4 linked regions of the Homo sapiens genome follow. The protein of the gene in region 1 interacts with the protein of each later gene in a pairwise test. Each region holds a gene or a part of one and is shown on either strand. Other genes may lie near its edges.

Region 1 (8,324 bases):
GGGATCAAGGGATTTGCCCACCTTGGTCTCCCAAAGTGCTAGGATTACGGGCGTAAGCCACCATACTCGGACTTGTATTGCTTTTTAAATATGGTATATTGGTTTCCTAGGGTTGCTGTAACGAAGTAGTGCAAACTGGGTAGCTTAAAATAATAGACATTTATTCTGTCACAGTTCTGAAGAGAAGAAGTCTGAAATCAAGTGTTAGAATGGCCATGCTCCCTCTGAGACTCTGGGGAGAATCTTTCTTTACCTCTTTCTAGCTTCTGGTGGTGGCTGTCAATTCTTGGTATTCTTTGCTGCTGCGTCACTCCAATCTCTGCCTCTGCCATTACATGGCATTTTTCCCTATGTGTCTCTGTCTTCTCTGTCTTCATATGGAATTTTTTTTTCTTCTTATCGGGACACCAGTCATATTGGATTAGGGTCCATCCTAGTGACCACATTCCAAATTTGATTATATCTGCAAACACCTTATTTCCAAATAAGGCCACTTTCACAGCTACCAGGGGTTAGGACTTTAACATACCTTTTTTGAGAATACAATTCAACCCATATCATGTGGTAAGTTACATTGAATAGTTTTCCAAATGTGAAACCAACCTTGTATATGTGGGATAAACCCACTTGGTTATGATGTATTATCCTTTTTATATATTGTAGATTTTATTTGCTAAAATTTTATTAAAAATTTTATTCCTAATAAATATTCCTAAGGAAGTAGTCTACATTTTTTTTCTTATATGGCCTTTGTTTAGTTTTGGCATCAGAGTAATGCTGGCCTCATAGAAGTAGTTGGGAAATATTTCCTCCTTTTCACTTTTCTGGAAGAGTTTTTGTGGAATTGATATTATTTCTTCCTTAAATGTTTCATAAATTTACCAAAAAACCCATGTGAATCTTGAGTTGTTTTGTGTGTGGGTGTGTGTGGGGAAAGCTTTTAAGCTACAAATTTAATTTCTATAGTAGATAAATAGCTATTTAAGTTAGCAATTTCTCCTTGAGTGAACTTTAGTAGTTTGTGTCCATCTTATGAAAGTTGTCAAATTTGTTGGCATAAAGTTGTTCATAATATTCCCTTATTATTATTTTTACATTTATAGAATTTGTAGTGATGTTACCTCTGTCATTCCTGCTAGCAGTAATTTGAGATTTTTCTCTTATTTTCTGATCAGTCTGGGTGGAGGTTTTTTTATTTTATTGATCTTAAAGAACCCACTTTAGTTTCATTGATTTTTTTCTTTTGTTTTCCTGCTATTTTATTGCCTTCTGCTCTGATCTTTTTTATTTCTGTTCTTCCACTTTGATTTCGTTTGCTCTTACAGTAGAATAGGAGCTTATTGATGGGAGATCTTTATTTTCAAAATAGGTATTTAGCACTATAAATGTCTTTCTGCTTCAGCTGCATCCCACAGATTTAGACTGCCTTAGCTGCATCCCACAGATTTTTATGTAATGTGTTTTCATTTTTATTCACTTTGAGATTCTTTCTAATATCCCCCTTTTAATTCTTTTTTTGGTGGGGGTGGCAGGGGACAAAGTCTCACTGTGTCACCCAGGCTAAAGTGCAGTGGCACAATCTTGGCTCACTGCAACCTCTGCTTCCTGGGTTCAAGTGATTCTCATGCCTCAGCCACCAGAGTAGCTGGGATTGCAGGCAAACGCTACCATGTCCGGCTAATTTTTGTATTTTTAGTAGAGATGGGTTTTGCCCTGTTGGTCAGTCTGGTCTTGAACTCCTGGCCTCAGGTGATCCCCTGGCCTCAGCCTCACAAAGTGTTAGAATTATAGGCATGAGCCATGGTGCCCAGCCCATCCTTTGAATTCTTAGTAGCTCATGTGTTATTTAGAAGTGTGTTATTTACTTTCCAAATATTTGGGAGGTTTTTCTAGATTCTTTTTGTTATTGATTTCTAGTTTAATTCTATTGTGGTCAGAGAACATACTCTGATTTTTTTTTAAAAACCAACTTAGGTATAATTTATGTACCTCTTTGCATGATTTTAATCCTTTTAAATTTATTGAGATTTGTTTTATGGCTTAGTGTATGGTTTATCTTGACAAATGCTACCTGTGCATTTGAAAAAATGTGTATCTGCTGTTATGGAGTGGAATATTCTATAAATGTCAGTTAGGTTAGGTTGGTTGATAACATTGTTCAAGTCTTCCATATCTTTACTGATGATCTGTCTCCTTATTCTATTAATTACTGCATTTTACAGATATTAAATTATCTGACTATAATTATAAATTTTTATATTTCTCCTTGCAATCCTATCAGTTTTGCTTCATGTACTTTGAAGCTATCTTATTAGGTGCAAACACTCTTAGGATTGTTACGTCTGCTTGATGAATTGAAATGTTCCTCTTTATCCCTGGTAATATTCTTTGCTTTGAAGTCTTCTTTGATATTAATATAGCCATGAACACTTAACATTTTAATAGAAGTTGCCAAATTTCCTCTCAAAAAAAGTTTGTGTCATTACATAAGGTGTTCCCCCTTTCTTGTCTATATCTTGAGATTTTGATATGACCCTTCCTCTAAACATGTAATGTTTCTTCTGAATTGTGATGAGCTAATGCCTTGCCAGGCCACTGGTTCTTTAGCTGCACAATGGTGGCAATTAATTAATAGCAGCTCTGCCATCACATATGTGTGTGCGGGGGTAGGGGAGCAGACCAGGGGTTAGGCAAAGGATTAAGGGGAAGGAAGATTTTGAAAAGACAAATGAGAAGTATTTTCATTGTCAGAAAAGGCATAGGCAAAGGGGCATCTTAAGCCAGTTCAAGATACTAGGGCCAGATGAATTAGATCTCAGGGCAGTGAACTTGTGATGTCAGAGTCACTACAGAGGTCTGATAGATGTACTCAAGGTTGGAGACAGGTCTGATAGGTGTATCCAAGGTTGGAAACAGGTACTTTTTTTTAATGGGTGAAAAAAAATTAGACTGTTTGTGTCAGTGAAGAACGTGATGCGTACAGGGAGCCAGAAAGTGTTCACTAAAAACTAATTTAATTCATTTTATTTGCTACAAGTTTACACAGTTGGTGGATCTGCATAGGCCCCAGTTGCCTTGGCCCCCAGAGAGAGGTGGAACCAAACAGGTTACTAGAGACAAACAGATCCAGGAGATTCTGTCTGATGGGTTGCAGTCATTAACTTCAGACCAGTACCTGGTTTTCCTATTAGGCGTGTTTTAACACATTAGGTCAGGCCACCACTTCTCCATCTGTCTGGATGAGGCAACAGCGAACAGCGCTCAGCAGACCTTATTAAGTACTCAGGTCTTAAAGACCCTCTGTTTGGTGGGCTCTGTAGTCACTAGAACCATAAACACACTACTGGCTAATTATTGTTTAATTATTGCTTAAAAACTGATGGGCACAATACAATCACCGCATTAATTACCCCATACAGCATCTGTTTTCTTTTTTGCAGCCATCCCCATTCCTCCCCAGCCCCTCTCCCCACTTTAATTGAAATTCAGCTTGCTGTAACACCTCCTTCCTCCTGGCCAACTGGATCTCTCCATTCACATGAGGGAGAACAAAACCGAGAAGGCCCCAGGGATTAGAGAGTTTTGACAGCTGTCCAAGAGGAGCGCGGAGATACGGGCCAAGTACGGAGGCAGGACAGAGACAAACGAGGGACAAGAGAGTGACGGAGGGAGGGAGAGATAGGCAGGGAGACATCACAGGAGCATTAAACTGGACAAAGAGTCACAGAGACAGGCGGAGATGTTTAAAGGGGCGCTGAAAAGGGGAAAAGGACGAGAAAAGATAAAAAGGAGAGAAACTGTGGCGAGCTGGTGAGGAAAATGTGAGAGGCTCAGGAGGGCAGGGAGACAGAAGAGAGCTCGTCAGGAAGGAGGGGAAGAAAGGCCGGCCTCTAGGGACAGGTCAGTCCAGCTTGGAGACCGATCTGAAGATCCAGAGAAGGCGGGCGGGCAGCCTGGTGGTCCCCTCACACACCTGGGAGTGGAGTGGACGGAGGAGGTGGCCGCGGGGCCGGGAGGAGCACCGGCGGCGCGAGCGGAGAAGCTGAGCGCGCAGCGCCCGGGCCGCAGAGCCCCCTGGACAAGCCTGGCGTGTGCCCTGCAGCCCCGGGCTCGCCCGGCGGCCCCGCCCCCTCCCTGGCCCGGGCTTTTCCTGCGGAGCTCAGGAAGCCGGCCTAGCACAGCCTCGAACAATAGCTCGGGACTCGGGCTCCGCTCCCCGGGAGGCCGGCGCGGGGCCGCTGGGACTGGGGGCGTAGGCGCCGCCGGGGGCCCGCAGCGAGCCCTCGGCCCCGGCCGGAGCTTCAATTCAGCTCGGCGCTCCCGGGGTCATTGTTGGCCGGGACTGAGGGAGCGGGAGCCGGGGGAGGAGCTGGGGAGGCGGCTGCTGCGGCGGCGGCGGCGGCGGGAGCCAGAGGGGGAGCTAGAGAGCGAGCGAGCGAAGGAGGGAGGTAGCGAGTGAGCGAGTGAGCGAGGGAGGGAGGAGGTAGGGAGACAGGGAGGGTGGGAGGGAGGAGGAAAAATAAAGAGGAGAGAGCGGAGCAGGGCTGAACAATAGAGACAGGCAGACGGGCGAGCAGGAGAGCCAGCTGCCGCTGCTGGGGGACAGCGGGCGCCCAGGCAGCCCGCACCCCGGCCCCGGGCCCCGGCCCCAGCCAGACAGCAGGCGGCCAGCGCCCTGGGGAAGGGGTACCATGGGGGAGCTGGCGGCAGGCACCCCCAGCCCGCCGCGCGCCTCCGCCTGAGGGAGGCTCAGCGTCCTCTGCCCCAGCCCCGCCGCCCAACGCCCGCCCTCGAAGCTCCGCGGCCGCCAGCTCTGCGGCCGCAGCAGCTGCGCCCCGCGCCCTCCGCCCACCGGGCGCCGAGCAGCCCTCGGCCCCAGGCTTCTTCGGCTCCCGGCTGCCCGCGGACGCCCTCCCACAGTCATGAACCCCCCTGAGGGAGCAGCGGAGGAAGGAGGAGCAGCAGACTCGGACGTGGACGCCTTTTTCCGGACAGGTAAGCCGGGCAGGGCGCGGGGGGCCAGGGCTGAAGGCTACTGCCTCGGACGCGGCGTCTCGGACAAGTTTGGGGAAGGAGGGCTGTTGCTGCCGCGTGCGTGTTGGGGGGCAGTGCCCCCTCGGCGTCGGGGCTGGAGTTGCCGAGATTCTGGTTGTTATGGCAGTGCTGGCTGCGTCTGGGGAGGGCGTGGGGGCTGGGAACTCCGCGCCCCTCCGCCTTCACCCCAGTTGCGGGAGTCTGTGTTGGGGAGGTGGGAGGCGGTCCCCTCGGACCGCCTTCTCCCAGAGCGCGGGGATGGGCGGTGTTGGCTCACTTTGCAGCGCGCCGCTCCGGCTACCGGCGTCCCGGCCCCTCCCTTGGCTCCCCCTCCCCTGTGCCTGTCAGCGGGGCTCCCGGCGGCCGCCCTGGGTCGGCACCCCTCCTCGCCGTCGGGGGCCCGGGGCCCTGATGTGCACAGAGGGGCGGCGGGGACCCGGAGCCGCGCCGGCTGCAGACTGACAGGAGTGGGGCGGAAGACATCGGTCTCGCCTGGTGCGTGTGGGGAGCTGGTCCCTCTGACTTGAGAGGCAGACCCAGCTGGGAGGGCGGTGGGCGCCTCGGACCTCCCCCTTGTCCTCCTCTTCAGTTCTGGGAACGGAGGAGCTATTCATAAGAATTACTCATTCCTGGAAGTGTGAGTTAGCGTCCCTCTCATACACACCCACTAAGTCTCTGCTTGCTGTGAGGTGTAGAGCCCTGAGATGTCTTTCTAGCTCTTTGCGCCCCTGCCATCGTCCAAGTCCCGGGTCCATTGCTCCTCCTGCTCCCTGGCTACACAGTCCCTCCCTAGAACCGGCACTGACCACCCTTATCTTCCACCACCTGTGGCCCTGTTTCTCTGATGGCCAGGGATTCCCCGTCTCCCTGTACCTGTGGCTTCCACCAGCTTCTGTGTGTAGCTCCCCATCTCCCCACATGTCTGAAACAGTTTTGTCTGGAATCTTTGTCCCAAGGAGTCCAGTAAGTTACCGGGGCCCCATGCATCTGCTCTCCCTTCTGGAAAGTTGGATTAGAGGACATGAACTGGTGGGGGTCAGGGGTCAGGTTAGCTCTGGAGGGTCTCTGCACATCCATCTGTTTCCTAACCCTGTTACCTTGCCCTGGAGGTCATCTCTAGGGAAGGGGGTGGGGTGCTTTGCGGGGGAGACTTGTGGCTTTGGAAGTCAAGACTTGATTGGCTCATATGTTCATTCTCTAGTTGATGTGCAGAGGAAAAAACTGGAGGACAGGAGCTGGTGCCAGGGTCTGGGGAAATCAGAGGGAGCCCTGTCATTCTATTCTGCTTCCCAGGTCTAAGCCTTCTTTCCTTTTCTTTCTTCCTCCTTCCTTCCCTCCTTCCTCTTCCGAGACATGGATTCTATTTTCTTTCTTCTCTCTCTCTCTCTCATACACACACAGCCCAGCACCCAAAAGCATGGATTCTAAAGAGGTGGAATCTAGGGAAAAGGTGGTTCTGGGGGCTAAGTGATATTCAGAAATACTCATTATGAGGCAGAGGAGGGGAGATATGGGAATTCATAACTGGGACTAGAAACAAATTGACCAGTCAATCAAAAACCCAGCTGACCCCCCTTGCCTCCCAACTGGGGCAAAAGTCTGCATTTTCTTAGCTCTGAGGGAAAAATCTTGAAGTGTGAGCCTTCCCACCTTCCCTTTCTGGACTCCACTTTTACCTTTTGGTGCCCACTCCTCTTTCCCCTTTCCTATCATCCAAACACTAGGTCCTGTTCATTTTCTGTTCCAGGCACCCGTAGCAGAGCTCAGTTCCTGGAGGCTTGCTTATTTCTGATAATAAATTCACACAGTGTTAATGGCCAATAATAGTCCAATGTGTTACTTTTCCCAGGGCCTTTCAAAACACAAGGTGTGGCACACATTATCTAACCCTGGCTCAAATCACAGAATAAATAGCAGACTGGGGTCAGTCTCCTGTGGGATTCCTATGTTGGGGATATTCTCCCTCCTCCTTGGGCAGCCCAGTGGCTGAGCTAAGTCTGATGTGCACTTAGTATCAGAGAAAGGTTAAGTCATTGGTGCATGAGGCTGGAAATGACTGATGACCTGTAACATGTTGCAAGAGGGGGTAGGTCAAGGACTACATCCACCCTGTGTGGCCCTCTATGCTTGGCTCACTGACTGTCACCACACTTCTGGTCTCTAGCCTAGGCTCTTGCTGGGGATTCTTCTTCTTCTTTTTATTTTTATTTTTTGTTGTTAATTTTTATTTTAGGTTCAGGGGTACATGTATGGGTTATATAGATAAACTGTGTGTCACAGGGGTTTCGTATACAGATTATTTCATCACCTTGGTAATAAGCATAGTACCTGATAGGTATTTTTTCTGATTTTCTCTGTCCTCCCACCTTCCACCCTCAAGTAGGCTCCGGTGTTTGTTATTCCTCTCTTTGTGTCCATGTGTTTTCATTGTTTAACTCTCACTTATAAGTGAGAACATGAAGTATTTGGTTTTTTGTTCCTGCGTTAGTTTGCTTAAGATAACAGCCTCCACCTCCATCCATGTTGCTGCAAAGGGCATGATCTTATTCTTTTTTATGGCTGCATAGTATTCCATGATGTACATGTACCACATTTTCTTTATCTAGTCTGCCATTGATGGGCATTTAGGTTGATTCCATGTCTTTGCTATTGTGAACAGTGCTGCAATGAACATATGCATATGCGTTGGTGGAGATTCTTAAGCTTAGAAAAGCCATGTTTCTAAACCTTCTCCCTTCTGATTTCCCATCTCTGTGGAATATAGCACTATACCTGATAGGCTGGATAGATTATAAATGTATTCTATTGAACAACTGAGAAAGCTTCAAACAAATTTTCAAAGTCCCTAGCACCAGGGTTACCCCTTTCTTTCTGATGGAAAATTTTGTATGCACAAGGACCAAACTGGAAATTGCTTTGTCAAAATTCTGGCATACTGTGCTTCTAATTAGGCATGTTTCAAATTATTCTGTCATTTTGGTTCCTTGTTTGTCCTCTTCTGATCATTTTGGTGTTTCAATCCCTTGACCAATTGGTTAAGCTAGATTCCCTAAATCTCACTTCCCTGTGTGCACATGGACACAGACATCCCACCCTACCCAGCCTACTATTCTAGATTGGTAGACTCCAGATTGTCTTCTTGGGAATTCTCTGTTCCAAGCCTGAGAAAGTGTGTTACAGTAATTTTATTGATCATAGTTATGAGGCAGAGGAGGGGAGTTATGGGAACTGATAACTGGGACCAGAAACCAATTGACCAGCAATCAAAAACAACTTTTCAATTATCCCTA
Region 2 (7,165 bases), on another chromosome or scaffold:
TGCATTCTCTGACTCGATAAATGAAGTTCAGCCAAGAATAATCAGTGGAAAGATTGCCTGAAGTCAATGTCATTCATTACTTTCCAGGCTACCATCTTTAATTAACCCAGGTTGGCAGAATAAAGGTGGAGTGCTAGGACAGGATTGTAATGCCCTAGCAGACTTACCGTTTCCAAATTTCCCTTCTGTACTCTCATGTACTTTATGATTAGTCAATTATATCTGTATTATTCCAACTACTATGATGCCGGAAAAACAGGTTGGCATTTTTGAAAAAGAGTTTTAGATTCCTATCATTTTAAAATGGAAAATTATCTGGTTCTTACTAACTTGCATTGACGAATTACGAAAAAGACGTTTTAAAACTAATCTGCAATCACTGTAAAAGATGAATATATTCCTATGGATACATGGAAATTGTATTTTATTTTAGAGAAAGGATCTCACTCTGTAGCCTAGGCTGGAGTACAGTGGATTGATCATAGCTCACTGCAGCCTTGAATTTCTGGGCTCAAACAATCCTTCTGCTTGGCCTCCCACAATCCTTCTGCTTGGCCTCCCAAAGTCCTGGAAGTATAGGCTTGAGCCACTGTACCTGCCCTGAAATTATTTTTTAAAAGGAAAACTATTATTAGTGATCCCTACTGATGGATCATTTGCATATGTAATTTGAGACACAGGTATCCACTTAGCTGTGATTACCTTTTATTAAAGTATTTATCCTCTGATTGATATATAGGCAAAAACCCTCTTTGGATTTTAGAAGAGCCTGACTTTACAAATTTATGTAAACTCAGGCTGGTTTTTAATTTATATTGGCTAAAGTATCTTCTAAATTTTGTACAATACACACATTTCTTTTAGTTGAAGACATCGAGTAAGTTTCACTAATATTTGTGGGTTTGTGTAATTATTATAAAAGTTGTATGTAAAATCTGCAAATACGCAAAAACTGGAAAATACACTGACAGCTAATGCTCTGAAAACACTTTATTACACAAATTACATTCAGATTCTGAAAATAGTGTTCTAACAGTGTAACCATCTAAAAATAAGACATCCCAAAAACACACCAACTGAAGAAAATTTAAAAAAGAATTTAAATAGAGACTTTTTTATTTCCTTCATTGCAATATAATGTTAGTGATTTTAAAAAAATAGGAGATTTAGCAGCTTTGTCGTCATGTAGCACAAAGTTTCTCTTTACTGCCACAGGCTAAGAATGCTGAACAGGAAAGGCACCAAAGAAAGACACTGGCAATGAAAGTGCTATTGGGAAAATACTGTGTTCAAGCAAAGAATGGGGTTATTTACATCCACCAAAAAGTCTCAAAAGTGTAAATGGGCAAATCTTCCATTGTTAGATTAGAATTATGATGGAAAAAGAGGACGGTTTCTCTAGTCTATGTTCATATAAAGACAATGGCACTGTTATGAACTTTTAGGAAACTCCTCAACTAGAAACAGAAGCCAACTTAACCAAAACGAAGTAAATAAAGTGTGTACAGTCCCACACAGACTAGTACAGTTTACAATTAAATACACAGAACTTTAAACGTGCTAAAGGGAAAGGAATCTGACATTCTGGGTAAATCTTACTCAATCTAAATCAAAGCTTGGTTTTCAGGAGGAGGAAGGTGCGAGCGCAGGCAGAGGTGCTGAATACTCCTCTTCTGATTCACTTCCATCATCCTCTTTCTCTTGGTCACTGCCCTCAGTGCTAAGCCGGTCAAACCCTTTTCGACTGTAGCCCTTACGGCTTGCAAAGAAATTACCAAGGTTTAAGCCTCCACTTCCCTTTCCTGAAAAAAAGCAAACAATAACAGAATTGGGTAAAGTTTGCAGCAATGTCTGTTACCTTGTAAATTCTTAAATGATAAAGTCAGAAGGTGGGGATGGGAAAGGGGAGATTATTTTATTTAAAAATAAAATAGAAAAACAGACAGAGACGTATCCTACAGAGCCATATAGATGCTACTATTAAAGAAGAAAAACAAAAGCTCCCAAGTATTATGTATTTCTGCAGGAATATTTCATATTCACTTTCACCTCCTGCTTTTCTCTAGCTCTCTATCCAGAACTAGCCTCCCTGGAGCAGCTCCTCATTTCAATGACTTTAAGAAAAGGTCATCTTTACTATGACAAACATTGACATGCCAACAGGAGTGACAGAAAATTTGCTGAAGACAAATGAAGCCAGGTAAAAGGCAGGGGAAGAGAATTAGATAATGCAGAATGGGAAAAATAAAACTGGGAAATCTGCTGCCAGACCCATGCACTTCAGTTTAGTTTATGGTGTGCATTCTGTATTTACTCTGGGAGATGCTAAGCTGCATACAAGGTGCTTTATCTTCAGAGACAAAATATGAAATATCTCCTTGCTTTTTAAAAGACATGTGCTTGTTGACTTTGAACCAAACATGAAGGGTTCTAAAAGGTCATAGGCATACCTCTAAATCTTCCCAGTACTCTTCCTGAACTCGTCTCGAGTTTGTGTTCAGAATCTGCTAAAAAAAGATGGCACATTTCAAAATGAGTCCCAGTCATCTTTCTCAACCCATGCACTCAACTTCCAACTTAAAATAGGAACTGGTAAATGATAAAGCAAGGCCTGGCTCTTGTCTGTATGCAATTCTAATTTTTAAGAAAGGCGGTATATTTCTGAGACATACATAAAGGGCCCAAGCTGGGTTTGACTCCTGCCCGTGTCTCTTACTGGCTGTGCAGTCTTGATAAATTACTTCTCTGAGCTTCAGTTTTCTCCTCTGACAAAAGAAAGGTCAAGGAGAATCCCTGTCTGTAAGGCTGAGATCAGACACTGCATGTGACACATTTAGAACACTACCTATAGATATACAGTAAATGCTCAATAAATCATAGCTATTTTTTTAATCAGGAAATGTTATTAATAATTTATAAAATTTTTCCATCTTTGGTTATGACAATTTAGGGATATTTGCCTTCAGCTTTACTCTTTCTACTGACAGTACGTATCTTGCTTGAGAAAGCTTTGGATCCATGTATATCGTTTCTTCTTTATGTAAGACATAAGTGAAGGGAAAGCACATGACACCCTGAGTATTTTCCAAGCATAGTAGGTGACCTAAATGTTCCCAACAGGACTGCCTATCTCCATAAAGGACAGACTCTCTTTCCTTATGGGGAGACAGAACTCCCAATGGGTTTCATTTTTTCCCTTGCTGTGTCTCTCCCTGTACTATTTCCCAGGCTTCATCACTCCCTCAAGGGCTATGGTCAGGAAAGTCAGGCCTGGGGTTGTCCTGTTAGGTCTTTAACCAGGACTGAAGTCAGCATCATGGAAAAAGATAGCGCAGATGAGAGGAAAGGGAGAAGACAGTGATGTGGAAAGAAATAGGCAAGAAGGGAAGAAGAATCTGGTAAGACTGTTAGAAAGCCAACAAATTAGATTGTAAGTTCTGCAAGGACATTCCTTAGTTTTGTATCCCCATGTGCCTAGCACAGTGTCTGATATGGAGTCAATACATAATAAGGAATGATGAATAAATGGAAGGTCCATTAGGGTTTTTAATAACCTTAGACTGGATAAGATCTATCAAGAACAAATTCAGAAAAAAAGTGAGAAGCTGATCTACTACTACTACATATGAAACTGCAATTTTTCTAAGTAAAACACGGTCAAATAATGGCAATTTTCTAGGGTTCTACCTGGGTCTCTACCTTCCTAACACATTCCTGTAAAGTCAGCATCATGTAACAGTGCTGTGTCACATGTGCTTAACAACAAACAGGAGAGACCAAATCTTCCTTATTCCCTAGCCACTGCTTCTGCCAGATTGGGTTGGTTACCACAATTCCTGCCACCTTCCCCTAGGCCCCACTGTTCCTACTACTCTGTGTATTTATCACTGCACTTACCACCCTCTACTATAACTTTTTTGTTTCATGTCTCTTTCATATGTTATCTATTCTGTGAGCTCGGTTGATTTATTCATTCATTCTTTCAACAACAATTTATTAAACCACTAGTATCAGAAACTATTATTTGTGCTGGGGACATATCAGTACTCAAGATATGGATTCTTGCTCTTTTGAAGCATCTATATAACACCATGAAGACAATGACTATGTTTATTTCTCTTTGCCCCTACTTATGACAGTTCCAGATCTGTAACATGGACTTAATAGAAATCCTTTTTGGGAAGAGTTAACTATATTTTTATAGAGATTTATTGATGGCACATGAAAAGCAAAATAAAGTCTAATAAAAATTCCCTTTTACAACATATTAAACTGAATTTTCTGTTTTCTGTTTCCATGCCTTTTTCTGTGTCAGGGCTTTGCCAAGGGCACTGAATCCCTGCCATGGCTGCCTTGACCTGAAATAGGATCAGATGCTGTTTCTTGATCAAATGCTCCCCCTCTCCCTGATCCATGGATTTCTTCCCACACACAGCTATAGACTTGCTCTAGGACCTGGGGACCCAGCCAAGGGACTGCTACTGAGCGGTAAGAAACATGAATTGGGTTGTTTATTTATTTAGATGTCCTAAAATAAACTCAGCTCTTGGATCCTATATTGTGATAATGATTTCATAAAATACTAACTCTGGTATTGGACTCTGCCTTGTTCAGTTATGGAAGGCTGATGAGCTAAATTATGACTATTCAAAAACTATCAAATGGTTTGTTATAGAATTAATTTTTCTTGAAAACTAAGGTTTAAGACAAGTGTTTTTTATAACTTCTTATGCCTTTTGTTACTTTATTACCAATGATTATTCATCATAACCATTGGTGGTATTGAGTACTTCCTAGGTTCCAGGTATCCTGATAAATGCTTATGTACATTATTTCATCTTTGTACAACCTTGTAAGGTAACTATTTTATCCCCACTTTTTTATGAGAAAACTGGTCTGGAGAGATTAAGTAACTTGCCCATGGTCATGTAGCTAGGAGCCTAATGGGAGAAAAACACAACCTGAAAAACTGACCCAGGTACTTTGAGGACTGGGCCTCTTCCTAACAGCAGGTATCTCCTCCTCTGATCCTTCAGCTAATTTATACTGACTCTACTACCTACAATTTCGTATGGACTCATTAATTGGACTTAAGCCAATTGCTAAAAGATAGTATTAAAGGTTATATTTTAATCTAACTATCCAAATTTCAGAGTCTCCAGATACTATTTTGTACTGTGATATTAACTAGGGGCAATATTTGGAACATAGACAATAATGTCAAAAATGGTAGAGAGCATTAAAAACAAAAAAACAAATACAGTGAAAAAAATCCCAATCAAACTCCTGAGGATAATTAGGCCAAACACTCTTTCAAAGGCAGGTTCCAAGTTCACGGGGCTCATTTTACTTGCCTCCAAAGGCCCTTGATTTTTTCCACCGAATAAATATGGCAATGGCCAGCAGGACAACCACCGGAATAACCAGAAGGGTTGTAATGAGAACAACAGGCACTCCCGAGCCTGGCTCTTTGATCAGTTTCTGTTTCTCTTGCATCTTCTGCAATTCTGAGGAGGTGGGTTTGTTCTCCATTTTGGTTTCAACAACTGCCTCGGCTTCTTCAGGGAAAGAAGAGTTCACAATATTCAACTGACTCAAAGATTTCAAAACCCCCTTACCCACCCCTACCCAGTCAAATCAATAACTGTTCACAAAGAACTTGTTGACTCCAGTGTACAGGGGTTTCATGTTTTAATACCTGAATCTACCAAACTGGCAGCAGGCATTGTGATTAGTTATTTCCACTGAATGGTTTTTCACCTTCAAATTAGTTTTCTTTTGTTCTACTTTTAATATGCTCTTTAGCTATAATTCCACAGAATATATATCCTTTTGTATTTTTCCAAAGGTAAAATTAATAAGACAGTACTGTGTAGGGGAAAGAACTGGTGTGCATACTGGAATCAAACAAACCTGGGTACAAATCCCAATTCTCCTATATACTAGCCGTATAACTTTGGGCAAGTTACTTAAATTATCTGGGCCACAGTAACTTCATCTATAAAACTGTAATAATAGGACCTCCTTCATAAAACTGTTGGGTGTAAATGTCTGTCATAAAAAATGTATATAATAAGTGTTTGTTTCCTTGTATCTTTAGTTTAAAAATATTTTTCATGTTCAATTAATTTTTGGTATTTCACATGGACAGCTGCACACATTAATGCTAGGATTACAAAAGAAAAAAGGAACTATGTGCTTTTCAGGCTCTTTTATATTGTTTTCAGCAAAATGTGAGTACAGACAGATGAACTGTATATCCTTTTGTTACTGATGAAAAGAACAACTATTATAATAACTAAAACTATTCTGTAACATTGGCAGGTACTGGGTAGGTATCAAGCCTAAAGTACTGTTTGGGAAATTGATGCAATGAAACTATATAAGCTGCTGCAGTGATCTTAATAACTAATGATATGAAAATGAGGTTGAGCCTTGAGACATCCTTGCCCTACAAGAAGCACATATGTGTATTTGTATAGAAACTCTAGTGTACAAAGACTAGTAAGAATTTGCCCAGACTAAAAGTTACAACCACATTTGCAGGAAGACTCACAGGTCATACATTTCTGAAATTTCGACTTCTTGGAATGCCCTTCTGCCCTACGATACAGAATGCATTGTAAAGCCTCAAGAAGATTTTGACAAAATGGTAGGGATAACACAATCAGGAAAATCTTTGGTTAATGTTTAGTAGGTATAGATTCAGCTTAGTAGTTTACTGGATACTCCTCCAAATAAATGTTTCCCAAATCATTTAAGATGCTGTCAACATAATTTATAATACAAACAGATGGTAGGTTCCAACTCTTTGCTTCAACGTTCTGAGCCAGCCTCTTTGACAGTCTCAGTGATATCTATTGAGTACTTACACCATTGTCAGGCATCGTTTCCTTTAATCATCACACCAAGCTCATGAGTAGGCACTATTATTATCATCACCATTTTGTAGATGACCTCATAGTCCTCCTTTCCTTCCCTGTACTATGGCTAAAGGGAGACCATCCTTTGTTTTCTTTTGTCCACTCAAGTGACTCTTGAAACTTGAAAGGGAGGGAAGGAAAGGAGTGGTTCATAGACCTAGAAATGGTTCAAATATAACTTTTCTATGTCTAGTTTCTGAGGGGAATACAGATGTGATTTCTATTCTTTCTGACCACTCATT
Region 3 (8,253 bases), on another chromosome or scaffold:
AAACGCAGAGTCCAGGTATTTGACGAGCATGCAGAAAACGGGTTGCCTTTTTGGTTTTGCCTGGCTTGCAGTGAAGGCATATTCGTGTCAAAGAGGTTGAATGATCCAAAGAAAGGGGGAAAAAAACCCTGCCTGCATGACGTTTCTGTTAAACAAATTGGTTAGGATTTGTTTGGGGTTTTTTGGTGTTAAATTATCAGAAGTATTAGTAAATTTACTTGAAAATTTGCAAAGCCTTTTTTTTTTTTTTTTTTTTTTTAACCTCCCTCTCTTTCTCTTTAAGGCATGAATATATTAATTTCTTACCACCATTCTGGTGTTTGCATGTAGTGTTTGCTGACTTTTTATTGGTGGCTACTTGGTTTTTAAGAACCAAGGGACTAAACATATTATCCTAGATATTTGGAGAAAATAATCTGAAAATACATAGTAAAAATTGTGTTTTTAAAATTTGACAAATATTGTAAACTTGGGTTTGTTTCCTGTTGCATTGACTTCTTCCACCACAATTTCTATAATAGAGCTTACCTTTTCATGTTTAAAAAATAGCTCTCGGGCTGGGTGCGGTGGCTCATGCCTGTAATCCCAGCGCTTTGGGAGGCTAAGGTGGGTGGATCACTTGGTCAGGAGTTCAAGACCAGCCTGGCCAACATAGTGAAACCCCATCTCTACTAAAAATACAAAAAATTAGCCGGGTGTTGTGGTGGGCCCCTGTAATCCCAGCTACTTGGGAAGCTGAGGCAGGAGAATCGCTTTAACCGAGGAGTTGGAGGTTGCAATGAGCCGAGATTGCACCATTGCACTCCAGCCCAGGTGACAGTGCGAGACTCTGTCTCAAAAAAAAAAATTAAAAAACAGCTCTCTTTATATGTTTTCTTTGTGTACAGTCTTTGTTTTCTAAGTCGGACCTTTTTCACAAAAAAAAAATTTAGTATCTTGATATCCCAAAATAAAAAATATAAACATTGGAAATTTCTAGTGTTTATAGGTGATAAATCCAAGGCAGGCCTTTTTATAAATCAGATGAGTTATTTACTTAAATGAGGTTTATAAAAATGGGCCACATTATAACCATTTCCTGTTTTGAGTCATAGTAACAATAAGGAACTTAAATACCTCTCATCTGAATTTTGCAGGTTAAAAGGTAAGTAGCAGCAAGATAGTATTTGGGAAGCAATCAGAAGTAAGTTTTCTCAATATTGCTCTGCATTTCTGGATTTTGATGCAATGCAGTATGAATCTTTTGCTTTCTTAAAGCTAAGTCCCTGCTCACCTCTGCAAAATTGCGCTAACAAGTTGAAATGAATTAATCAGTTTGAAGGCTGACATGCTGATCCACAATCCTGATTGGAATGTGGTTTAAGCAAAAATATTTGTTGTTTTTATTTATGGTGTTCAGTCATCCTTTATGTATTATTGACCTCTCTGCTTACCATCAAATCTGCCACTAAAATCTGCAGCTAAGCTGGTTTTGAGTTAATTTTGTTTGATCTGAGAATCAACTGGTATACAATTTTATGAGTGCTAATCAATTCTTTGGTGGTTTGTTCTTAGGGAAGCCCTTCCACATCCATGGATATAGTTCTCTTGCTTTGCAAATCTGAAATTTGGTAATAGGCTGGCATCCTAAGCCACGGAAAAAAGACATTGTTGGTTCTGCACATTTGGGTTCTGACTAAGCAACAAAAGCAACTGATGAATGGTTTCTATGATCTTTTGCTTTGGGTGATGTTTATGAATTTTTCCATAACCAAATGACCAAACGACCCGTTCATCCTGTTAGTCCCTAAAAATCCCTTTCTTGCAAAACTGTATGTCTAGTGGTGTCCTGCCTGAGAATCAGAATTCATTTTGTAGTATTCCAAATGTCTCTTACATCCAGTGCATTCAACTTGCTGAAAGAATGGCAATCCCAATGCTTTGTTTTTAATAGAGACTCCTTTCAGCTTCACTATAATTTTTTTCTCTCTTTTGGGATTCCATAGAGAAACTGACTGCACTCACTGCAGGTGCCAGGTTTACAGAGTCCAGAGCATTTGACCTTTGGTTCGAAAATGTTTGTATCTGCAGTCTTTTGTGTTGCTTAACGCAGTGGGATTCCCACCCACTGCCTCTGCCTGTACAAGAAGATAGAGCTATATATCCCATAAATACCCCCCAATTTTTTTTATTTTTATACTCCCAAATTTTATGCCCCCAAATACCCCCAAATTTTTATTTGGGGAATGAAAATTCCCCAAATACCAAGAACTGCCTCAAACAGCTGTCTCTTGGCGTTCATCAATAAGACAAAGATATTCATGTCTAATCTATTTTGTAGGAATCCATTTTCAGTTGATACTGTGTATAAGTTTGTGTTTGATATCCTGGATCATTCTGAAGCATGCTGTATCTTTGGATTAAATTAGAAATTTCTTTTTTTTTTTTTTTTTTTTTTGAGACGGAGTCTCGCTCTGTCGCCCAGGCTGGAGTGCAGTGGCGCGATCTCGGCTCACTGCAAGCTCCGCCTCCCAGGTTCACGCCATTCTCCTGCCTCAGCCTCCCGAATAGCTGGGACTACAGGTGCCCGCCACCACGCCCGGCTAATTTTTTGTATTTTTAGTAGAGACGGGGTTTCACCGTGTTAGCCAGGATGGTCTCAATCTCCTGACCTCGTGATCCATCTGCCTCAGCCTCCCAAAGTGCTGGGATTACAGGCGTGAGCCACCGCGCCCAGCTGTATATTAGAAATTTCTAGCCAAGATTCATATATTCAGACCCCACTCTTCTTCCGAGATCTGGTAGTATTGTAAGAATGCTGACAAGTTCATTTTATTCATTTTATTTATTACAATAGAGGACATAGTTGTAATTCCTGCTTTATCCCCCTGAGATTCGCATTACTTGCTGAATGATGCAGCTAACGTTTGACTGCTGCGTTGCAGCATTTATAAATAGCCTACGTCTTCAGTCTCCTCTAATAATATTTTGCAAATATATACCTTTTTTTTTAAGTTACCTTAAATGGGAAGTTGTCCTTAAACATATAGAGAATATACTTAGCACTTCATTTCCCCTCCTTCAGTCTCTATGTGAACAGACTTGATTGGCAAAATCAGAGACAGTTGGCTCCTTTGAGATAAGCAGTCAGTTGATTGCATTCCTAGGAAGTCGTCTCTGTTGTGGTTTTTAGGCAGTTAGTGGAACTGATAGATAGGCTGGTAAGATTGGAGTTTGTTTTTTAATGGCACGTTTCCCAGATTTTTCCTTTCTGGTGCTCTCAAAAGGCGTTAATCCCATATGGCTGGGAACAGCCTGGAACGTTCTCTGTGAAGTCGGCCTTATCAGTCTGCTGCATATGCCAGGGAAGGGGTGGGGTGCTTGCAGCATGCAGCCTCGGTTGTGGAAGGAATGTGGCACGCCCAGGCCGAGCTGAGCTGACATTTCAGTAACTGACAGTTTCGGGTGAGAGGCTGTAGCACCTTTGGATGGCAGGAATTCTTAATGATATTTATGAGAATTTTCCTGTGTTTAATGTAGTCTGCAGAAATGACCCTTTTAGGAGCAAAAAGAAACTGGAACTCGTGTAGATAAACAAGAGACAGCTCCCTGTCAGGTTAAGAGGGGGGAAACTCTCACTAACCCATAATGTTTTTTGGTGTCTCCTGTAATTGCACAAATGAAAATTCTGAATGCTGACTGCAGTGGGAGCACATTGGTGACTTTCAGATACCCAGCTCCCCAGAGACAGCCTGTTGTGGCTTGGCAGACCTCCCACCTACTGACGTCAGCTGATCTACTGCAGGAAAGAAAAGTCCATTATTGCCTGACCAAAGCACTTGGTATAGAATTGACTCGTTCTACTTCACTGGGGTGACAAAGAGGGCCTTTTAGGTTGGTTAATTTCAGCAGGGCCTTGCTGAACTGTCTCTCTGGATTGGCAGGATCAAATCAGCAAGCTGGGCCCAAGCAGGGGGACTTGCTCAGATGGAACCTTTGCGATATTATGATGGAGATTTTCTTATCATAAAGGGCTGTTCCCAAATGTGATTTAATTTCTGTAGCAGGTAAAGGATTTTAGAAATGCAGTGACTCCTGTGATAGGAGGCAGAACAGCACCATACACTCGAATCCTGGAGACTGCCATCTCTTTCAGGAGCTCGTGTGCAGTGTCGTTATTGTTCCATGTGTAACTATGCCTTCCTTGGAAAATTTCTTTACAAGAAAATTTTGGAAGCAAACAAATTAGATGCATAATTTCTCAATGTTTTTCCATCTTAACTGTTTCCTGAGGGTTGAGAACAAAGGAAATATATAAATAAATAAGTCTAACCCTAATTGTTTACCAAGACTCAATCTTAAATAATTTTGATTTTTTTTTTTTTTGAGACGGACTCTTGCTTTTTCGTCGCCCAGGCTAGAGTGCAGTGGTGCGATCTTGGCTCACTGCAACCTCTGCCTCCCGGGTTCAAGCGATTCTCCTGTCTCAGCCTCCCAGGTAGCTGGGACTACAGGCGTGCGCCACTATGCTTGGCTACTTTTTGTATTGTTAGTAGAGATGGGGTTTCACCATGTTGGCCAGGCTGGTTTCAAACTCCTGACCTCAGGTGATCCACCCGCCTTGGCCTCCCAAAGTGCTGGGATTACAGGTGTGAGCCACCCTGCCTGGCCGATAATTTTGATTTTTAAGAAATGATTAATACATCCACATCCACCTCACCTTTTTTTTTTTTTTTAAGAGACAGAGTCTCGCTCTGTCGCCCAGGCTGGAGTGCAAAGGCGTGATCTTGGCTCACTGCAACCTCAGCCTCCCGGGTTCTGGCAATTCTCCTGCCTCAGCCTCCCAAGTAGCTGGGATTACAGGCGCACGCCGCCACACCTGGCTAATTTTTTGTATTTTAATAGAGACGAGGTTCCACCGTGTTGCCCAGGCTTGTCTCGAACTCCTGAGCTAAGGCAATCCACCCCCTTCAGCCTTCCAAAATGCTAGGATTACAGGTGTAAGCCACCGTGCCCGCCTTTTTTTTTTTTTTTTGACACGGAGTCTAGCTCTGTCACCCAGGCTGGAGTGCAGGGGCTTGATCTCAGCTCACTGCAAACTCCGCCTCCCAGGCTCAAGGGATTCTCCAGCCCCAGCCTCCTGAGTAGATGGGACTACAGGCATGTGCCACCACACCCAGCTAATTTTGGTATTTTTAGTAGAGACAGAATTTTATCACGTTGGCCAGGCTGTTCTCAAACTCCTGACCTCAGGTGATCTGCCCGCCTCGCCTCCCAAAGTATTGGGATTACAGGTGTGAGCCACTGTGTCTGCCTCACTGTTTTTTCACTCCAAAGTGCAGATGTGAAAAGGAACTAATAAAGAGGGAGTGAAGGCCGGGTGCTGTGGCTCACGTCTGTAATCCCAGCACTTTGGGAGGCTGAGGTGGGTGGATCACCTGAGGTCAGTTCGAGACCAGTCTGGCCAATATGGTGAAACCCAATCTCTACAAAAGTACAAAAATTAGTCGCGTGTGGTGGCGGGTGCCTGTAATCCCAGCTACTGGGGAGGCTGAGGCAGGAGAGTCACTTGAACCTGGGAGGCGGATGTTGCTGTGAACCCAGATAGCATCACTGCACTCCAGCCTGGGCAACAGAGCAAGACCCCATCTCAAAAAAAAAAAAAAAAAAAAGAAGTGAAAGGAACTAATAAATAACCAAACAGCCATCAATAAATAATATGTCGGCCAGGCACGGTGGTTCACGCCTGTAATCCCAGCACTTTGGGAGGCCGAGGCGGGCGGACCACAAGGTCGAGATCAAGATCATCCTGGCCAACATAGTGAAAGCCTGTCTCTTAAAAAGAAGAGAAATACAAAAATTAGCTGGGCGTGGTGGTTTGTGATTGTAGTCCCAGCTACTCGGGAGGCTGAGGCAGGAGAATTGCTTGACCCTGGAGGCGGAGGTTGCAGTGAGTCAAGATCGCACCACTGCAATCCAGCCTGGCGACAGAGCAAGACTCCATCTCAAAAAAAAAAAGGCCAGGCGCGGTGGCTCACGCCTGTAATCCCAGCTCTTTTGGAGGCCGAGGCAGGCAGATCACGAGGTCAAGAGATCGAGACCATCCTGGCTAATATGGTGAAACCCCATCTCTGCTAAAAATACAAAAAATTAGCCGGGCGAGGTGGTGGATGCTTGTAGTCCCAGCTAGTCGGGAGGCTGAGGCAGGAGAATGGCATGAACCGGGGAGGCGGAGCTTGCAGTGAGCCGAAATTGCACCACTGCACTCCAGCCTGGGCAACAGAGCGAGACTCCGTCTCAAAAAAAAAAAAAAAAAAAAAAAAAAGAATATGTCAATATGTCAACTCTAATCATGTTAAGAATCACTGTGTCTATTGTGCCATATTCTGGGAACCGGAGGATCCCAGGTCATCCTGGCCTTTGCAACTTGCTTACTAAATTACCTGTCTCCCAACTACTTAATTATAAAACGATGGCAGTTTCTTTATTTCCAAGCTCTGAATATAATTGGATCTATAATATGTGCCAAGTCCTGAGTTCTGTGCCCAGAGAGTAAGAGTAAAATATGGTCTTCTTTAGAGTTCCTTAAAGGACTTATGAATGTGGTAGGGAGAACACAATAATTTCATGGCAGAATGTGGCAGTGTTATAAGATGAATGATAGAGGTGGGTGGTCAGGGAGTGGAGACTTCTGATTCAGAAAGACTTCATAGAGGACGAGGCATTTGCTTTGGACTCAGAGATCTGTATGATTTGTTTTTTATATTTTTTATTTTTTTGACAGGCTGGAGTGCAGTGACGCGATCTGGGCTCATCACAACCTCCGCCTCTCAGGTTCAAGCGATTCTTCTGCCTCAGCCTCCCGAGTAGCTGGGGCTACAGGCGCGTGCCACCACACCCGGCTAATTTTTGTATTTTTAGTAGAGATGTGGTTTCACCATGTTGGCCAGGCTGGTCTGGAGCTCATGACCTTGTGATCCACCTGCCTCGGCTTCCCAAAGTGCTGGGATTACAGGCGTGAGCCACCGCGCCCAGCCGAGATCTGTATGATATTAGATGGTAGGGTTGGGAGTGGGAGAGGAGAGTGCACTCCTGGGAAAGGGAACTTTTTGAGCTTTCAAATGGACCCTGTCCAGGACCTGTAATTGGTGTTGGTGAGGGAGCTTGACATGAGATACGGCTGGAGGAGACAACTGGAAGGTGACTGAGTGAAGTCTTGTTTACCTTGTAGTAAATGTGATTATAGTGATCCTTGTCAGGGTCCTCATCAGAAATCAGCCTTCTCCAAAATAGGCTGACAGACTTAGGGCAGCAGTGTAAACTATGACTGCCTGTTATCATTAAATATTACAAAACTTTGGGAGGCCAAGGTGGGCGGATCACGAGGTCAGGAGATCGAGACCATCCTGGCTAGCACGGTGAAACGCCATCTCTACTAAAAAATAGAAAATATTAGCCGGGCGTGATGGCAGGCGCCTGTGGTCCCAGCTACTCAGGAGGCTGAGGCAGGAGAATGGCGTGAACCCAGGAGGTGGAGCTTGCAGTGAGCCGAGATCACGCCACTGCACTCCAGCCTGGGCGACAGAGTGAGACTCCGTCTAAAAAAAAATATATATATACATGTATGTGTATATATATATATATATATATATATATATATATATGTATATATTTTATTACAAAAACTGCTCTGAGCAGACATTAAGCTTTTCAAGGTCACTCCCAGTTTTTGGTTTTAAGGACTTGACGTCTGTTTTAAGAATAGAAAATAGGCCAGTGCAGTGGCTCATGCTTGTAATCCCAGCACTTTGGGAGACTGAGGCATGTGTATCACTTGAGTCCAGGAGTTCGAGACTAGCCTGGGCAACATGGTGAAACCACACCTGTACAAAAAATATAAAAATTATCCAGGTGTGCTGGCACCTGCCTGTACTCCTAGCTACTCAGGAGGCTGAGGCGGGAGGATCGCTGGAGCCCAGGAGGCAAGGTTGCAGTGAGTTGAGATCGTATCACTGCACTCTAGCCTGGGCAACAGAGTGAGACCCTGCCAAAAAACAAAAAACAAAAAAACGCCACTTTCTCAGAGTATACTGCCATGTGGTCAATCCAAGATTGGTAATTCAGATTTAGTCATTAGGTTGACACCTAGTTGTGTAGCTTTAGTCAGCACATTCTTTATTTGCCATTCTTGTCATCAGTCTAGCACTTAACTGGATAGAATTCCAATTTTACAATATGCAAACTGAAAGATTCGTTATGGAGCTCTCTCCCTAC
Region 4 (7,000 bases), on another chromosome or scaffold:
GTCAGGGAATCCAACTAACTGATTTGCACTACCAGATGCAGGAATTAGAAGCACCGTGTACTTCTGAAGATGATAGCAACTATGTTAAAGAATGAAGAAGCTCTCTATATACTAACACATAAAGTCCTCCAACGTGTCAGATAAAAAAAAGCAAGAAACAAAACTGTGTGTACAGTGCGACACCTTTATTGTAAAAAGGAAGATAAAGATACGCATTTGTATTTGACTGCAAAAATTTAAATAAGATTTGCACATAAAACTCTATAAAAGCCGGGCATGGTGGCTCATGCCTGTAATCCCAACATTTTGGGAGGCTGAGGCAGGTAGATCAGTTGAGGTCAGGAGTTCGAGACCAGCTTGGCCAACATGGCGAAACCCTGTCTCTACCAAAAATACAAAAATTAGCCAGGTGTGGTGGCTGTAGTCCCAGTTATGGAGGCTGAGGCATAAGAATCACTTGAACCCAGGAGGCAGAGGTTGCAGTGAGCCAAGATCACACCATTGCATTCCAGCCTGGGTGACAGAGCAAGACTCTGTCTCAAAAAGAAAAAGAAAAAAAAAAAAAAACAGCTATAAAAAAGGAACAAAGAGAAGACCAGTAAAGTGATGTTGGAAATTAATATTATTATAACAGAAATAAAAAATTCAATAGCAAGATTGAAAGGCAAGTTTCAGTAGATATATTAGAGATTCAAACTAGAAAAAGTCAAAGTATGGAAAAATAGAGAAGAATCATTAGAAAATCTGAGGATCAGTCCAGTGTGTCTAACATTAGAATAAGAGGATTTTCAAAAGAGGGAACAGAGAAATTGGAGAAGAGAAAATTTTCAAAGAAATTGTACAAAACATTTCCCAGAACTGAAGTACTGAGGGTTCCAGATTGAAAAAGCTTGCTGAGTGCCCACAGCCCAGGAATGAAAACAGACCCACATCATGGCAAAGCATCAAAAAATCAAAATATTGGAGATAAAGAAGAAATCATAAAATCTTCCAAGCCATTGGCAGAGAAGAATAGGGCTTCTCAACAGACACATTAGAAGCAAAAGAAAATGAAATGATGTGTTCAAGATTCTGAAAGAGAATAATTTCCCACCTAGAATCCTATACTGAGTCAAACACTCAATCTGGTAAATTGAAGATATTTTCAGACTGTCAGGGTCTCAAAAAAATTAGCAACTGTTTACCTTCCTTGGGTGGGAAGATATATGACTGAAGCATGAGAATAAACAAAATAGAAAGGAAAAGACAGGTTCAGGAAACAGAGTCTAAACAGGAGAGAAGCACAAGGAATTCCCAGGATGATGTGCATGAGAGACTCCAGGATGATAGCTGTGTGGCAGTGCCAGGAGGCAGCAGTGAAGATGGGGGCAGGAGGAGGGGTCTCCATGAACAGAGAGTAACTGACAAACACCTGAGCTGTCTGAGGGTGCTAAAAGATGGTTTGGTCTTCAGCAGAGTGTTTAGAAACGCATTGTAAATTAAGAAACCAAAATTATTTCCATGGCAAACATAAAATTGTATGAGAAAGAAAATATAACATAGGACAACATAATGAGTCCTTGTGATTAATATTTAAATAACCATAATGATAATTAACACTGAATACTGATTTAGCTCTTGAGAGTGATACAACTATATTCATGGGGGTGGGAGGAAGAGGAAGCAGGAATGTGTGCATGTGTGTAGGTGCGTGTGTGAGAGATAGGAAAGAGAGGGAAAGAGAGAGACAGAACAAGAGAGAACAGGTGCAGTGTTGGATTGTTGGATGCTAAAATGGAGCTAGACACATTTGGATCATTGTTAAAAATACGGATTTAGGAGCCAGACTGAGTTCAAATCCTGGCTCCACAATTTATTGCCATCATTACTATGTAATCTTGGGCAAGATATGTAATCATTCTATGTCTCAGTTTCCAATACGCAAAATTAGGATAATAATAGTATCTGCTTGGCTGGGTGGGGTGGCACATGCTGGTAGTTCTAGCTGCTCAGGAGGCTGAAGTGGGAGGATCTCTTGAGCCCAGAAGTTAGAGGATGCTGTGAGCCAAGATCACACGACTGCACTGCAGCCTAGGTGACTGAGCAAGACCCTGTTTCTTAAAAAAAAAAAAAAGTATCTGCCACATAGTGTCATTGAGAAGATTAAAATAGTACATATGTGTAAAGCACCTGAAATATTCTCTGGGATACTGTACGTGCTTTATAAGTGTTTATAAGTGCTATCATTTTGATTTTCTATAGTAGAATGCCAGTAGATAACAGGGATACTATTTGAAACTGAAAATCTGTATGAGCATGTTACTTAGAAATAGAGAATACTAGAGAAAACACCTGAAGGAAAAGTGAATGGTCGATTCAAAAGAGTGAGGCTAGGGAAGGGGGTGGGTTTGGCACAGGGCACATCCAGTCTTTATTATAATGCTAGTATTACTCTTATAAGTATCTATATCACTTTAACAATAAATTAAAATAGAACACTTAAAAGAAGGTTTTGGTCATAGTCTAAAGATAATAAAGTTTAGACTTTGATGGGCATTTCTGCTTTAATATAAGAGGTGCTGTGGTCAAAAACACTAAAATGAGCACTCTTTCTGCAGGACAAAACCCCTTATGATTAGAGCTAAGTCTGTACCAAGTAAAATATTAACTTGAGGCATTTATCTGAAAAATATCAGGATAATTCAATCCTCCCTGAACCCTTCAATTACCTAGTCCCAAATTAACAGTATTCAAAGAACGAAAGTGTTTGGGTAATTCTGGCATGAATTATTCAGATAATTTGCTACTCCTCTATTTCATTTTTGGATATGAAATCACATTCTGAGTGACCAAAATTGGAAAGAAAAAAAGCTTAAATTTAAATAACAGTTTTTCAAGTGTTCTAACTTGCTGACTCTTCTAGGCATGGATTGCAGATTTCCACAGTCCATGGTGACCAGACTGCAACTTACAGCATCCATGTAGAATGGTCCACGGCACGCACGACATTTCCGCTGATAACCAAAACAGGGAAACCTTGCTATTTTCTGTGATCTCCCTCAGAGTTTTGACTGAGAGCACATCTATAAGTCTCATCTACTAAGAAATGGATTTTGGTTCAAGGCATGAAAACTTGTATTTGAAGTGCCCAAATGGAAACTCACTGTGGGTAGGTGGACTTGTGACCAGAAGGCCAATATTGATAAAGAACACACCATTTTTCCCCGCTGTGGGAAGACAGGCTCAGTCCTTTTTTTATTCATATTTTTCTCTCTTCTTCCACTTTTCCTCTCTCTAGCTTCACCTCTCTCCAAATATCTATGAAGTCTCTATCATGCACCAGGCACCAAGCAAGACACTGGGAGTACACGTGGAGTACAAAGGTGCTATTGGGGATTACTATTTTCATGAAGCTCTTAGGCCTTTTTCACAGAGCTTGCCATGTTTTACTTGAATCCTATTTTCATTCTCTCTTGATTATGATCTCCCTGAGTGAAGGAATCAGGCCTTATCCTGGCAGAGCAAAATGTGTGGCTTAGAGCTGAAAATATTTGCAGAGTGGCCCGGCCATCCAGGGATGTGGCATTAGGAAGATTGTCCATCCGCGCTGTCCTCAGCGTGGGAACGAAGAGCACCAGTGACTGGCCGGGGGAAGGATACTTGATGAAGGCACTGGAAAGTGGCTGTGTAAAGTCTCTATTTGGTATTTTTAAACTCAACTAACCTATTGCTTCTTTGAAACTCCAGCCTTAAGAGATACAGGCAGGCTCTGTTCTTTTAAAGTACAAAGATGCCTCTAGTGGTGGCAGACGTGTGGTGCAAATATGACATTAATAGAACATGTATGTGCTTTGAGGTCACACAATTCAAAACTGGATCTCTGGGGAATAAGGAAAGGAGGGTGGGGGTGGAGAAGTGAGTTGTCCTTAGGTTTTCTGACTATCCTTAAATCAGGAGCGGCTTGTTGAAAGCAAATGGTCTGGTGGGAAGATTTTGGTGTCCAAGGCAGTTCTCTTCCTGTTGTCTTCCTACTGTTGGTTCATGGGTGTTCACAAACTCCACACATTCATTTCCTGCCTCCCTGGAATAGTGATTTAAGAGAGTACGAGGGTCTTCCCTGCCTTTTTTATGTCTCAACATATCATACTTTGACACTAACTAAACTGTTTCACTGTCTTCTTGTGGTGCAATCTGCTTTCTCCTTTTCCCAGTGTAAGGAGCTTATGAAAAGACACCCCATTTGTGCATCCATCTTGGGAACTCTGCCAGCCTCTATAAAGACTTTGCTAAATTGTGCTTAGACACTGGGAAGATGTGATCATTCTGGCTTCTCATAACATGGACATTTTTTCTTTATACACAAGACTCTGCCTTATTGGCAACAATTCCCTGTAATTCTACTGTGCAATGGTCAATAGAAACCCCAAAACCTGGCACATTTGAAAGAAGGAACTGTCGCTTAATTCATGTGAAGAAATAGTTCAAGTTTAGAGCCTCCTCTTCTTCTCCAAGTCATGGTATAAAATGAGGGTTTTCTTTCTGAAAATACTTTGAAACTACAGGCGAGGCTGAGGTGGGTGTGGGCAGGACAGAGAACACAGAACACCTAAGGAAGCATGAGGAGGCAGGAAAGAGAGAGAGAGTGAGAGAGAGAGAAAGAGTTGGCGGGGTTGGGTGGGGACACAGACAGAACACTTGGGGAAGCATTGGTGGGGAGGAACCACGGAGCACCTGGGGGTACACTGTGGGAGAGCACAGAGTACCTGGGGAAGCATGGGAGCTGGGAGGGTCAGTGCTGCTCTAAGGGTTTCTGGAGCAGAGGCAATCACCCAACTTCAGGCACCTGGCTGTTGTCTTTCAACTTTTGCTCATTGGGCATGCAGCCTGATGCCAGCAGGTTAGAAAGGCAAACAGAAAATTATACTTCCGTTCAGGGCTTAGAACATGAAACTACAGGCTGGTTGCAGTGGCTCACACTTGTAATCCCAACACTTTGGGAGGCTGAGGCAGGTGGATCATCTGAGGTCAGGAGTTCAAAACCAGCCTGGCCAACAGGGTGAAACCTCGTCTCTACTAAAAAGACAAAAATTAGCTGGGTGGTAGTGGCATACGCCTGTAATCCTAGCTACTCAGGAGGCTGAGGCAGGAAAATTGCCTGAGCCTGGGAGGTGGAGGTTGCAGTGAGCCAAGATCGCACCACTGCACTCCAGCCTGGGTGACAGAGTAAAACCCTTTCTCAAAAACAAAACAAAACAAAACAAAAATAAAAAACATGAAACTACAGTTTCTGAGCAAAAACTCAAATGTCTATAGTGTTAAGCACCAACTACTTTACTAAATACTTTTTCATTAACAGCTTTAACAAACTTTTCTGAACTGTTGCATTGGTGAGATTTGTCTGTCTCTGGAAGGATGCACTCAACATATATTACATAGTTTGGTAACAACACCCACATGATTGAGTAGGTTTATCATTATCCTTTCAAGAATCAAGCATATGAGTTAAAAATAATGTTAACATTTTAAGGTCAAAAAATGAAAGCAAGATTAAAATATGGTTATTTGATAATATATAGAGAAATGATGGCAAGGAGACATTTGTTCAGCAGCACCAGGGTCTTGTTGCACTGGCTGCATTTTCCCATCAGGATTCTGGAAATGCTTTTTAGTGGGGCTGAGGATATGCTCTGGTTGGGAGCAGGTTTCAGCCAGGGCCTCACCTTTACTTCCCAATGTCTTCCACATCTTTGTTCCTTTTTCTGTTTAGTATGATGTCCTGGCAATAAGGACAGAAATGTGTGTTTGTGTGTGTTAGGGGTGGGGGAATGATACCCTAAACTCTGACTCTCTAATGGGCACAGCAGATGACCATTACTATAGTAGATGTCATCTCACTACTGGCGAAGCAGACCAGTCTCTTTGAAGTGGCTGCTGAACAACCTTAAGATCTATGCAAAATATTTGATACCAGCTCTTGGCTCTCAGTATGAAGTTCCCAGTGTGGCTAATACCTTGGCAGTAAAACCCACACTAATGGTGTTTATTGCTTTATGATTTTTAAGGACTCTATGCTAATGCTGGTGCTAGGATTAGGCGTTTCCTAACCCCTCAGGCAACTGTGCAACTGTGGTCAAAGTGGGTGTTACTGGTGGTGGCCAGGGGTTATGCCCTTTTGCCTATCAGTAACTGGAATCACTGCTCACTTTGTGCCCTAAAGATCTCAGATGGACTTAAACTCTGGGAAATGAATGTTTCACTGGCATTTTAAGACAAGTAATTGCAAACATTTCCTTGGAGTTACAATAACTTAAAAACAACTTGTCTTTTGTAAGATAAAGTAAAGATAAATCTGCTTGTTATAAACCAAGTGATCCTCTACAGTTGAATCACACTGGGGATGCTGCTCAAAGGAATAGAGTTGAATCTAATTTTAAAGGGCATTGAAAAGAAATTTAGATTTTTGCTATCAAGCTGTGAACAATTTAGAAAAATAAACAGCAAACAGAGCCCTCACAGAGCAGACATTCTTTAAAATGTTAAAAATGTTATATTTATTGTCCCTATTTTTCCTTTATCAGAAAAAAATAACAATTTCTTTTAACTAAAATGGAATTCCAATGTATTCCTGGAACCGGGATCCATCGCCTCACTCTTTTCCCCAGGGATATGCTGATAGGGCCATGTAGAGGCAATAACATTTGGCCCCAACTCCAACCCAATGACTGCCACTGACTTCCAAAGTCATACTACTCTGTGCATCCCTGCTACCTGAGAGGAGCCATTTGGTGGTCAAGCAAATTTTGGGGCCAAGATTTGGAGTCATAGCTGAGAGATGAACACTTTAGTTCCTTTCCTTCTTGCAGTGGGGTCCCATAGGCAAAATTAGGCAAGCCTAGGTATTTTTCAGGCCCACATTCCCACTCTAGTCTTAATTTATCAGAAGAATCTTTATTTCAGCCAGAGAGATCCATTCTTGCTTTATCTCAGGAGTGAACCGGCCTAGTTCTCTCTGTCTGTGTGT

Evidence for each region.
Region 2: the proteins of KALRN (region 1) and PAM interact in a two-hybrid assay, tested with the Homo sapiens proteins (one study listed by BioGRID).
Region 3: the proteins of KALRN (region 1) and SPTAN1 interact in a two-hybrid assay, tested with the Homo sapiens proteins (one study listed by BioGRID).
Region 4: the proteins of KALRN (region 1) and SNCAIP interact in binary tests that used the Homo sapiens proteins (3 or more experiments, as listed by UniProt).

The regions. Positions count from the first base shown.
Region 1 is NC_000003.12:124,028,819-124,037,142, forward strand, and holds the start of KALRN (kalirin), read left to right. Parts: upstream 1-4,550; 5' UTR 4,551-4,922; coding exon 4,923-4,995; intron 4,996-8,324. UniProt on the Homo sapiens protein: Promotes the exchange of GDP by GTP. Activates specific Rho GTPase family members, thereby inducing various signaling mechanisms that regulate neuronal shape, growth, and plasticity, through their effects on the actin cytoskeleton.
Region 2 is NC_000005.10:103,023,524-103,030,688, reverse strand, and holds the end of PAM (peptidyl-glycine alpha-amidating monooxygenase isoform e preproprotein), read right to left. Parts: intron 5,559-7,165; coding exon 5,355-5,558; intron 2,508-5,354; coding exon of another isoform or gene 2,505-2,507; coding exon 2,451-2,504; intron 1,803-2,450; coding exon 1,624-1,802; 3' UTR 973-1,623; downstream 1-972. UniProt on the Homo sapiens protein: Bifunctional enzyme that catalyzes amidation of the C-terminus of proteins. Alpha-amidation is present at the C-terminus of many endocrine hormones and neuropeptides and is required for their activity.
Region 3 is NC_000009.12:128,555,385-128,563,637, forward strand, and holds part of SPTAN1 (spectrin alpha chain, non-erythrocytic 1), read left to right. Parts: coding exon of another isoform or gene 1-15; intron 16-8,253. UniProt on the Homo sapiens protein: Fodrin, which seems to be involved in secretion, interacts with calmodulin in a calcium-dependent manner and is thus candidate for the calcium-dependent movement of the cytoskeleton at the membrane.
Region 4 is NC_000005.10:122,455,237-122,462,236, reverse strand, and holds part of SNCAIP (synphilin-1), read right to left. Parts: exon of another isoform or gene 5,756-7,000; coding exon of another isoform or gene 5,702-5,755; exon of another isoform or gene 2,903-5,701; intron 1-2,902. UniProt on the Homo sapiens protein: Isoform 2 inhibits the ubiquitin ligase activity of SIAH1 and inhibits proteasomal degradation of target proteins. Isoform 2 inhibits autoubiquitination and proteasomal degradation of SIAH1, and thereby increases cellular levels of SIAH.